Homo sapiens: one gene and its partners. The protein of the gene in region 1 purifies or fractionates together with the protein of each later gene. This does not show direct contact. Each region holds a gene or a part of one and is shown in the gene's direction. Other genes may lie near its edges. The genes, in order: ACAA2, LARS2 and ACSF2.

What was found.
Region 2: the proteins of ACAA2 (region 1) and LARS2 purify together in Homo sapiens (affinity purification with mass spectrometry; 2 studies listed by BioGRID and IntAct, with this or other methods). This does not show direct contact.
Region 3: the proteins of ACAA2 (region 1) and ACSF2 purify together in Homo sapiens (affinity purification with mass spectrometry; one large-scale study listed by BioGRID and IntAct). This does not show direct contact.

The regions. Positions count from the first base shown.
Region 1 is NC_000018.10:49,792,991-49,796,642, reverse strand, and holds part of ACAA2 (3-ketoacyl-CoA thiolase, mitochondrial), read left to right. Parts: intron 1-761; coding exon 762-878; intron 879-2,215; coding exon 2,216-2,363; intron 2,364-3,652. UniProt on the Homo sapiens protein: In the production of energy from fats, this is one of the enzymes that catalyzes the last step of the mitochondrial beta-oxidation pathway, an aerobic process breaking down fatty acids into acetyl-CoA.
Region 2 is NC_000003.12:45,517,438-45,521,089, forward strand, and holds part of LARS2 (leucine--tRNA ligase, mitochondrial), read left to right. Parts: intron 1-465; coding exon 466-635; intron 636-2,781; coding exon 2,782-2,859; intron 2,860-3,652.
Region 3 is NC_000017.11:50,460,601-50,464,252, forward strand, and holds part of ACSF2 (medium-chain acyl-CoA ligase ACSF2, mitochondrial isoform 2 precursor), read left to right. Parts: intron 1-76; coding exon 77-272; intron 273-641; coding exon 642-770; intron 771-1,032; coding exon 1,033-1,086; intron 1,087-1,583; coding exon 1,584-1,702; intron 1,703-1,819; coding exon 1,820-1,985; intron 1,986-2,555; coding exon 2,556-2,651; intron 2,652-2,794; coding exon 2,795-2,952; intron 2,953-3,217; coding exon 3,218-3,309; intron 3,310-3,617; coding exon 3,618-3,652. UniProt on the Homo sapiens protein: Acyl-CoA synthases catalyze the initial reaction in fatty acid metabolism, by forming a thioester with CoA. Has some preference toward medium-chain substrates. Plays a role in adipocyte differentiation.

The DNA.
Region 1 (3,652 bases):
GTAGAAGTACAAACTAGTTTGACCTTTTTAAAGGACAGTTGGTTAAATACATTTGTTTCTTTGAGCACAGAGAAGAAAGTGAAATCCAATTTCATTTGTAAAAGTCTTCATTTTATTACAAACAAAATAAGAGCCAGAGGCGTATTTTAATAAAACAATTTTCACATTAATTTGTTTCTATAACGATATATCTTAAATAGTGACCTCGGTTTTCCTAGTAATAATTTTAAGAACCATCAGGTTCATAGAGGCTCATTATTTGCTCCTTTTCTGAGAAAGGCAAACAGTGGAAAGTGTTGGAAGAATGAAGTGGTTTCCTTTTTATGAGTCACCTAGATTGAACTAGTTCTTGTAAATCTCTGTTCTTGTTCAGATACATCCATTAATGGGATAAATTTTTCTTTTGCCTTTTTAAAGGGTATGTCCTTTATTATCTGCTGTACATTTATGCCAGGTATTAATATCTGTTGATTTTCAAGATTTATATTGTGTTAAGAATTACTATTCTTAGCCACATGTAGGTAGGGCCTGTTACTCAGGCAAACATGATTGAAACCTTTTAGTTTTCTCCTCCTACATCTTGGTAATGGATACTTTAGCATTTGCTTTACAGTTACTTTAAAAGCATTTCCTTTTGAGACACTGTAAGCTACAGTACAATATTTGTTTGATTTACCATTAATTTGTAAAATCAGTGTGTTTCTTAATACATTGTTTGGGTACGGTAAAAGGAGTTTTTATTACTGTTTGTTTTTAAATAGGAAATTTGTGTTAAAGAAGCTGAAGTTGTTTTATGTGGAGGAACCGAAAGCATGAGCCAAGCTCCCTACTGTGTCAGAAATGTGCGTTTTGGAACCAAGCTTGGATCAGATATCAAGGTTGGAACCATAAAAATTTAAAAGAATTAGTTCTTATTAGCATTATATAAGTACTTTTAATAACATACCTTTTTATGGGAGAGAAAACTAATTTTGAAGCCAATTTCGTTGATGAGGATTGGCAAGATATGAATGATTAGAAGTTTGTAAACTATTTCAAAACTCTATTTTGGTGGTTAGTTTTGACATTTTAACCCATATGAAATTAGATTCTATCTATCTCAGCAGACCTCTAGTAGTATAATTATCCTGTGTAAGTGGCCATAGGCATGGGAGAGATGGAGGAAGGGAAGAAGTGGATTAAAAAGATAGACAAAAGAGTGAATTAATCTCACTACTAAACAATTAGTAATCTGAGTAATTAAATCTTTAACGTGACTTATAGAAGTTTTATTTCTGGGACAGTCTCAGAATAGATTTCTTCATCATCACAGAAAACATCTTTGAATACAGATTATATTGTCCCAAATCAAACAAAAACTGATTCTTTTATCTTTGAGAGCTACAACTTGAGAATGATGGTACAGTACTGATAAAGAATGATGTTTTCTTCTCATTCCCATGTGAAAGGGCTACTGACATTTTATATTTTTTAGCATTTTCTATAGTAATGTTTGACTCACACTGTTCACCCAGTTTCTCACCTGGCCTTTTTGGAAGTTGAAAGGAATGGGACTTAAGAGAATCTATGCGGATTTTAGCCACCAAACACATTTGAGATATCTTTTATGAAGACAGGTCAGTGAGTTAAATGTTGATGAGGCAGCAAAGTGGGGCACACTTACCAGAGACTAACTACTTGAATAATAATTAACAACCTTTCTGTAACTCTGGGAACCTGTCCCAAGATCTTTTCAGCCTCATAGTAACCGATAGAACCAGCTATTCCTGTCACTGAGGCGCAGGATGAAAAAGAAAAACAGATAATACTGTTTATTACAGAGCTCAGGGCTGGTTTACAAAGATGGCTATAAGAAAACATTGCATGAAGACTCATTGTCAGGTTTTCTACAAAATATGACCTTGAGGATTTAATTTTTGATCGTAGGGTAACTTCTGTGATCTCACCATGCACGTCTAGTCCTGTTAGCTGTTCTTAGACCCCCACATTTAGAGAGGGACAGAGAATGTGTGCATTTTATTTTGTGACATTGAATGTTTTCAAAAACATTGCATGTTTTTAAAAAATATCCCATAACTGAATATGAATAGTGGTTATCAGAAAGTCTTAATTTTACTTTTGTTTATTGGAAGTGTTGATTATTTAAAGAAATTATAACATATTACTTTTAAAAGGAAATGCCTTAACAAGTCACTTTATTAATGTCTTTTAATAGCTGGAAGATTCTTTATGGGTATCATTAACAGATCAGCATGTCCAGCTCCCCATGGCAATGACTGCAGAGAATCTTGCTGTAAAACACAAAATAAGCAGAGAAGAATGTGACAAATATGCCCTGCAGTCACAGCAGAGATGGAAAGCTGGTGAGTGAAACTGGAAAGTATCAGTATCTATAGAATAAATATCTATAGGAAATATTTTCATCATTTCTATTATGGTTATATAATATTTACAAATCATACCTTTAAGAATTATTACATCTTTTCATTATTCCTTTGTCTTTAGATGATCAGATATTTTATTAATTATTGCAAAATTAACTAGGAATTTCTCTTTTGAAAAAGTTAGTACTACTTAAAAAGTGGTATTGCTACTTGACCCTAGATGGACCCTTGAGTTTTGTGCTGAACTGGTCCTGTTGTCAGTAGAACATGATGAGGAATACGATACGTTCTGTCAGAGGTGATAGCTCACTGTGGCAACTGGAATATAGAGGATGTCCTCTCCCACAAGCCATATCATAATCATAAGAAGGGGTAATGTATTTGGAAAAGACCCACTGGGTCTTTTATGCTTTCCTTCTGCCACTCCTAATTAAGAATCATTGTACCTAACTCAGAGACTTAGAACTAGTCCGAGACTCTAGTTAGAGTGCCCTGGTGTAGCACAGCAGGTTGCTATAGAGCCGGTCCAAAACAGGCAAATGTGACAGCAGTTCTTTTAGCAGTGCAGCAAGTTGAAGAAATGTGATATTTAAAAAATTAAACTGTTAAAGCAAGTGGAAACTCTTATTTAGGAATATTAAATGCTTGAAGTAATGAGGATAAAGTCCATCTTAGCATTTCAGAAGGATAAGTGGAATAGAGCTGATGCCATCTAACTCGTGTGTTTTTTTACTTATATGTTCATAGTGGAAGAGGATTGGTCTAGAAGTCAAGAGTTATCAGTTCTGTTTCTACTTCTACCACGCACAAGTTATCAAGCTCAGTCATATCATTTATTCACTGAACCTCTGTAAGATAGAGATAACAATATTTGCCTTCCCTATTTATCTAATAAGGTTGTTTTAAAACCAAATAAGGGCATATAAGGAAAGTATTTTGCCAATTGTAAAGTGATATGAAAATTAAGGTTAGTATTATTCCTGACCCTATTTCCAAAGCTATAGATTACTACAGTACATTCTAGTCAGTGGAGGTCAAAGTAGGTAAGATGTTTTACTTATAATTGTATTAGTGATTGCTCCCATAATTTCTTCAGGTTGCCTATCACTATTAAGTTTCAGTTAGATTACTTTGTGGCATAGACAACTTGGTAACTTTTTAATTGCTTATCTCACCAAAAGAAGTTTAAAAGGGGTATTAAGTCCATTTATTGCCATTACATCTATAGCAAACAGACAGATGCTGCTAACAGTCTTAGCAGTACCTGG
Region 2 (3,652 bases), on another chromosome or scaffold:
ATTGTGCCAATGCACTTCACACTCTACAGCAGTGTGGCTGCAAGCACAGTCATGCTATCCACAAGGTAAGAGCTTGCACCAGCAGGAGTCAGCACTGTCTCCAAAGCACCATGTTAACTCCATGGCATTTTTGTCCCAGCAAGCTTGCTTAATCAAGGCGGCGGGGCACCAGGGCTCATCTTGACCAAGCTTCTGAGCTCATGACCGTTGGTGGGTGGCACTTTGAGTGGCCCTGCCATCCAGTGCTCTGAATCTGGGCACTAAAATGAGATAGAATTGGTCCTGGTCTGAATTCTCAGACACTGAAGGCCAGGGAGGATCCTTCAGCCTGCCCTCAGAGGAATCCATCAGGGTGCAGTGAAGTGTCACATCAATTCACAGGTGTTTTTCTCTGCTTAGTTATACCAAGTCAATCACCCTTATGTTGCACGCTCTCTCTTTCTCATTTACTGATGCTGAATTCAGCTGATGCTCTCCCTGGGGTGCTGAGATGGCAACAACGACTGTGGACCTTGACAACTCGGTTTATTGAGGCCAGGGCTTCTGGGAAGTCTCCCCAGCCTCAGCTGCTGAGTAACAAGGAGAAAGCTGAGGCCAGGAAGCTCTGGGAGTACAAGAACTCCGTCATCTCTCAGGTCAGAAACTCTCCAATTCCAGGGGTTAACTCTGTAACCAAGCACTCTTTGGGAACCTTTGCCTGTGGTCTTTGCTGCCCTCCCTGCCTTGGGTTGGGCCACTGTGGGTCTTCCTTCCTGGCAATGGCGGTCCTTCTTGCTTTGATTGATTGGCCCTACTGTTTTGGGTACTTTACCAAGGTGGATCAACAGTGCATATGTTCTAATGGAAAGAGATGCCCCCAGGAAATGGCTCTCTGATGATGTCTCACATTTGTCCATCCTGGGTCTCAGGAAGCTGCCACTTTCCATGTTTCCACATTTAACACATCCAAGCAGAGAACCAAATCCAGGATCACCCTGTCATCCAGGATGACACCGCATATGTTACATTAACAGAAATACAATTTTAGAGTTGGAAGGGGCATTAAGAAACTATCCTCTGTAGCCTCCTCATTGTACAGATGGGGACAGAGATGATGTCCAGATATCTTGCCTAACGTCACACGGCTAGTGAGGAACTGAGCAGAGATTAGAATCCCAGTCCTCCACATAGTGAGGACTTTCCCACTCAGTTACTTTGTTACACAATATCCATGTGAACTATTGTGGGTTAATTTCTGCAAATCTGAAGTCATTGTAATGGGTATCTGATATCCCAAATTCTTCTTAAGCTGATTTAAAAAAAAAAAAGTTATGCTGATTCAGACATAAAGTTAATCAGTGTCGCTCATCTGCACTCTGATAATGAACACAATGATGCATGGCAGGTTTTTGCCTCTCTGGTTTGTATAACCTGAAGTGGCCCTGGGTCCAGCATGGTCTTATTTGTTGACACTTCTTCAGCTTTATTTCTGGCCTCTGTACCCTCTCTATGTGGAGGAACAGAGCTCCCTGAATGAATGTAGGGGTCTGAGTGATGCCTGAGCGATTGAGTTCATACCACATATTTTCTCCCTGGATTTGGCAAATTCTTCTATTCTGTCAGATAAAAGAATTAGGTTATTTCAACAAGTTGGAAACTCTTGACATCCTTAAAGATGTGTTACTTTTCTGTATTCTTGCCTATAGTCAAAATGGAAAAGCACAGAAACATGAAAAAGCTGACAAGCTGTGTTAATGTTCTTATGTTGACTGTACATTTCAAAATGTAAAATTGACAAGGCGCAGTGGCTCACACCTATAATCCCAGCACTTTGGGAGGCCAAGGCGGGCAGATCACAAGATCAAGAGATTGAGACCATCCTGGCTAACATGGTGAAACCCCGTTTCTACTAAAAACACAAAAAATTAGCCTGGCGTGGTGGCACGCGCCTGTAATCCCAGCTACTCGGGAGGCTGAAGCAGGAGAATCACTTGAACCTGGGAGGCAGAGGTTGCAGTGAGCTGAGATCGCACCACTGCACTCCAACTTGGGTGACAAAGCGAGTCTCCGTCTCAAAAAAAAAAAAAAAAGTAAAATTAACCTTATCCCATATTCTAAAAACCGTCACTGTGAAGCAAAGTCACATAACCAAGCAGAAGTGGCATCCTTTATTCCTGTTTTCTGTTATGTTGAGTTTACCCATCAGTGGGTCCTGCGTCCTATTCATGTTACTAGCATTGCTTTTTTTTTTGACAAAGTCTCACTCTGTTGCCCAGGCTGGAGTGCAATGGCGCAATCTCAGCTCACTGCAGGCTCCACCTCCCAGGTTCAAGAGATTCTCCTGCCTCAGCCTCCCAAGTAGCTGGGATTACAGGTATGCGCCACCACACCCGGCTAATTTTTTGTATTTTTGTAGAAATGGGGTTTTGCCACATTGGCCAGGCTGGTCTCGAACTCTTGACCTCAAGTAATCCACCCACCTCGGCCTTCCAAAGTGCTAGGATTACAGGTGTGAGCCACTGTGCCCAGCCACTAGCACTGTTTTTCTAAGCACCTACTATGAGAACCAACAGTATCCCAGATATGTGGAAGAATAGTCTTAAACAGTGGAAACAGTGTTGACTTTGAATTTTAAAATATTTGTGTAGATGAAACATAGCGATTATTTGAGATAGTAGATATATTTATAAATATCTTTGCATCCCATTCATTTTCCTTTTTTTTTGTTTTGATAATTCAGTCTTTTTGTGGAAAGCTTAAAAGAATTTTGAAATAAGTAAATAATTGAACCTTTACTAATAGGTGACCACCCATTTCACAGAGGACTTCTCACTGAATTCTGCAATTTCTCAGCTGATGGGACTCAGCAATGCCCTCTCGGTAAGTGGCCTGTCCTCATTTGCTGGTAGCAGAGGAGGGAGGGAGAGGTGTGGCAAGGGGCCCCACAGGGTCCCAAGAGGGACAGAGAGCACCCCCACTGTGTCACCGCCTCAGTGTGGCTTGATTATCTTAAGGAAACATTTTTCCATAGTCACAACCTAGTTTTATGCTGGAATGTTCTTAAAGATTTTCTGGTCCAAACCCCCTTCTCCCCCAATATTTTACAGATGAGGACATTGAGGCCCAGGGAAGTTAGATGACATGTCTGGTTGATTAGTGACAAATCTAGGACCAGACTCAGGCCTCCCTGTCTTCTGGCTCTTTGCACCCCCGCTGTCTGATTTCATGAATGAATTGTGATACCTCCTCGGCATCATTACATTTGATATTCATTTAACCTGGATGGATCAGGATCGTTCTCACCAATGCCAAAAGTCAGCCTTTTCAGTATGGACTTCCTTCTTGCTAAGTGTGACTACCATTTTTCTTGCCAGGGAAAGGATTTGTCAACAAATGTTCTTAGCTACTGGACAACAAAAGCATTCATTAAAGCTATTAACAAATGCTTTTTAAAAATGAAGTCCTCTCCAAGCTTTTAAGATCAGTGGGGGCCAGGCACAGTGGCTCATGCCTGTAATCTCAACGCTTTGGAAGACCAAGCTGAGAGGATCACTTGAGGCCAGGAGTTCAAGACCTGCCTGGGCCGCGTAGAAAATAAAATAATTAGGCCAGGCATGGTGGCTCACACCTGTAATCCCAGCACTTTGGGAGGCTGAGGCAGGCGGATCACGAG
Region 3 (3,652 bases), on another chromosome or scaffold:
TGGCTGGGTGTGCCATGCCCTTGGTTCCAGGGAGACTGATCTGGGACAGTCAAACCCATAGCTCCTCTCCCTACAGTTCCAGAGAGGTGGATCGCATGGTCTCCACGCCCATCGGAGGCCTCAGCTACGTTCAGGGGTGCACCAAAAAGCATCTTAACAGCAAGACTGTGGGCCAGTGCCTGGAGACCACAGCACAGAGGGTCCCAGAACGAGAGGCCTTGGTCGTCCTCCATGAAGACGTCAGGTTGACCTTTGCCCAACTCAAGGAGGAGGTGGGTCCTGACCTGGAAACCTCAAAGTGGGCAAGTACTAGCTCCCAAGCTGCCCTAGCTGGGCAGAACCAGGAGCGTGGGCACCTGGCTATGGGGCAATGTGCTAGGGCTGCCAGAGAACCCCGAGGGATGGCAGGAGAAGGAGACAGGACTGACGCACAAGGGGTCCAATGCCTCCTGTATCAGCAGCTCCTGGGGCACCTGTTAACTATGCAGGCCCCAGGGCAGACCCACTGAGGCTGGGAATCTGCCTGTCCCTTTGTCCCCAGTGACTGTGATGAGAACTCCGGGCTAAGGGCTGAGGGTGGGAGTCTTGGGCCCCTTCCTGCTTGCCCCCTTTCACCCCTTGCGCCCCATCTTTTACACTAGGTGGACAAAGCTGCTTCTGGCCTCCTGAGCATTGGCCTCTGCAAAGGTGACCGGCTGGGCATGTGGGGACCTAACTCCTATGCATGGGTGCTCATGCAGTTGGCCACCGCCCAGGCGGGCATCATTCTGGTGAGGAGGGGCTTGCTTGGCACAGCTTGGTGTGCATGGGGGAACATCACTGAAGGGGAGCCCCTCAGGCCCTCAGCCCCAGGATCAAACCAGTGCCTTGTTGGTTTCAAACCAGGTAGTGCTTTCTCCTGAGGCCCACCAAGGAGGTCTCTGGGAGTTAGGGGGCTGTAGAGTGCTGCCTCTATGCCTCCTGGGGGCGGAGGGGCAGCAGGAGGGACAGGGTCTGCCCAGAATACTGATATGCCCTCGCCGCTTCCACCAGGTGTCTGTGAACCCAGCCTACCAGGCTATGGAACTGGAGTATGTCCTCAAGAAGGTACAGCTCATTTGTCGGGGAGGGGCCCGGCTGGGGCCTGGCACAGGGGGCTGCACAGACTCTGCTTGTCAGAGTCTGACGGTGTGAGCTAGGGCATGCATAGGCGGGTGATACGCAGAGTGTCCTTCCTTAGGCCATGTGTGATTGGAAGGTGGCCCCAACTCCAAGGAGAGCGTGGTTGGTCAGACACAAACCTGGCGTGAGTGTGCAGGGACGGGGGCATGTGTGTGTCAGGGCAGAGGTGTGTGTGTGTGTGTGTGTGTGTGCGTGTGTCCATCCTCATATGTGATGCATATGTGTCTCAGGGTGTGGTGTGTGTGTCTCGGGGCTGGTACATGTGTGCATTTGTCTTGGAGTGTGGTGCCTGTGAGTGTGCTGGAGGTGTGTGTGTCAGAAGCGGGTGCATCTGTATGAGAGCAGCTGATTAGTGAGGACTCCCCCAGAGCTCTAGTCTGGGGCTCCCCGCTGACTGGAGGTGGGGGACTCCCCTTCCACAGGTGGGCTGCAAGGCCCTTGTGTTCCCCAAGCAATTCAAGACCCAGCAATACTACAACGTCCTGAAGCAGATCTGTCCAGAAGTGGAGAATGCCCAGCCAGGGGCCTTGAAGAGTCAGAGGTGGGTGTGTCCCAGGTTAGTGGGTGGTGCATCATTCAGCATCCCTGATTCCTTCACTTCCTACCCACCCTGCCCCCTCCCTCAGCCCCTGTCTCTCACCATCGTCCCCAACCCCAGGCTCCCAGATCTGACCACAGTCATCTCGGTGGATGCCCCTTTGCCGGGGACCCTGCTCCTGGATGAAGTGGTGGCGGCTGGCAGCACACGGCAGCATCTGGACCAGCTCCAATACAACCAGCAGTTCCTGTCCTGCCATGACCCCATCAACATCCAGTTCACCTCGGTAGGGCAGAGGTCTCCAGGCCCCAAGCCCAGATGGACACATGCCCCCTGTCCCTGTGACACTTCCGCGGGGATGGGGAGACAGCAGAGGAGAGCATGCCTTCTTTACTGAGACTGGCCTTCAGCTGTCCTCTCTGCCCTGGAAAATATCAGCACCTGGTGTCCTTGTCACATTTCCTCCCCTAGCCCCCCGCCCTCTCCACTCCAGCCCTCTTGTTCCCGGTGCAGTGGCAGATTCACTGAACCAACACAGGTTGGAACTGCTACAGGCTGCCCCTCATTTAGCTGATGAGGAATCAGAGACGCAGAAGAGAGAATTTGCCCAAGCCAGCTTGTGGGTGGCAGAGTTCTCTGGGCCATGTAAGTGGCATGAGAACGGAGACCTTATCTTCTGCATTGCTGGACCCTGACACCTGGTATCGTGGTAGACCTTTTGCAAATATACTGAACAGATGGATCTGGGGCAACAATCCCTGTCTCCTGATTCCCGGTCCCGTGCTCTTCAAGGCAGTGGCCCAGGGTGGGAAGGAGATGAGAAGGAGGCCAAGCCATGCCCTGTTTGCCTTGTCAGGGGACAACAGGCAGCCCCAAGGGGGCCACCCTCTCCCACTACAACATTGTCAACAACTCCAACATTTTAGGAGAGCGCCTGAAACTGCATGAGAAGGTGAGGCGGCACTAGGCCCAGGGCAAGGCTGCAGGAGGGGTGGCTCAGGCAGGGGTGGGGGGCTGGCTGGGCTCCCCTTGCCAGCTAGAGAGGAACTGGCGTCTGGCTCCAAGACAGACCCAGCCTCCTGTCTCCATCACCAGACACCAGAGCAGTTGCGGATGATCCTGCCCAACCCCCTGTACCATTGCCTGGGTTCCGTGGCAGGCACAATGATGTGTCTGATGTACGGTGCCACCCTCATCCTGGCCTCTCCCATCTTCAATGGCAAGAAGGCACTGGAGGCCATCAGCAGAGAGAGGTGGGCACTGGTGGACAGGCTACTTGTGGGCTGATAAAACCCTCTTCTTCCTCACTCCTGGGCCCTGACACCTTTCCAAGCTGCCTCCTCCCTCCAGCCAGGAGACTGAGGATGGGGACAGTGGAGGACCCCCAGGAGAGGACCAGTTCCTGCCTCAGGAGCTTCTCCTGCCTATTCCCTTTGCTGCAGTTTCATGGCGGGGTGGGTGAGAACAGGGAGTTCCCTTCCACTTCCAAGCCTAATTTCGAGACCTCCTCCTATACAGAGGCACCTTCCTGTATGGTACCCCCACGATGTTCGTGGACATTCTGAACCAGCCAGACTTCTCCAGTTATGACATCTCGACCATGTGTGGAGGTGGGGTGGGGCCAAGGGCAGCCAGGCTTGGGGAGGGGGCTGCTTCCCCCACAGGAATGGCCCGGGTGAGTTAGCTATGCTCCCAGTCTTTTATATAGGGGGCAAGAAGGACGCTGTAAAAATGTGGGTGGGAGGGAGGGAGATCCCCAGTGTCCCTGGACACCAGCCCAGGGCCAGCTGCCAGGTGTAGGAAAGGCTCGGGGTCAGAGGAGAAAAGGGAATGTTCCTCCCCTGAATGAGCTGTAGGTGAAAGGACTCCACTGGGCCTGGAGAATTGGGGAGCTGTGTCAGCCCTCTCTCTGATTCAGGTGTCATTGCTGGGTCCCCTGCACCTCCAGAGTTG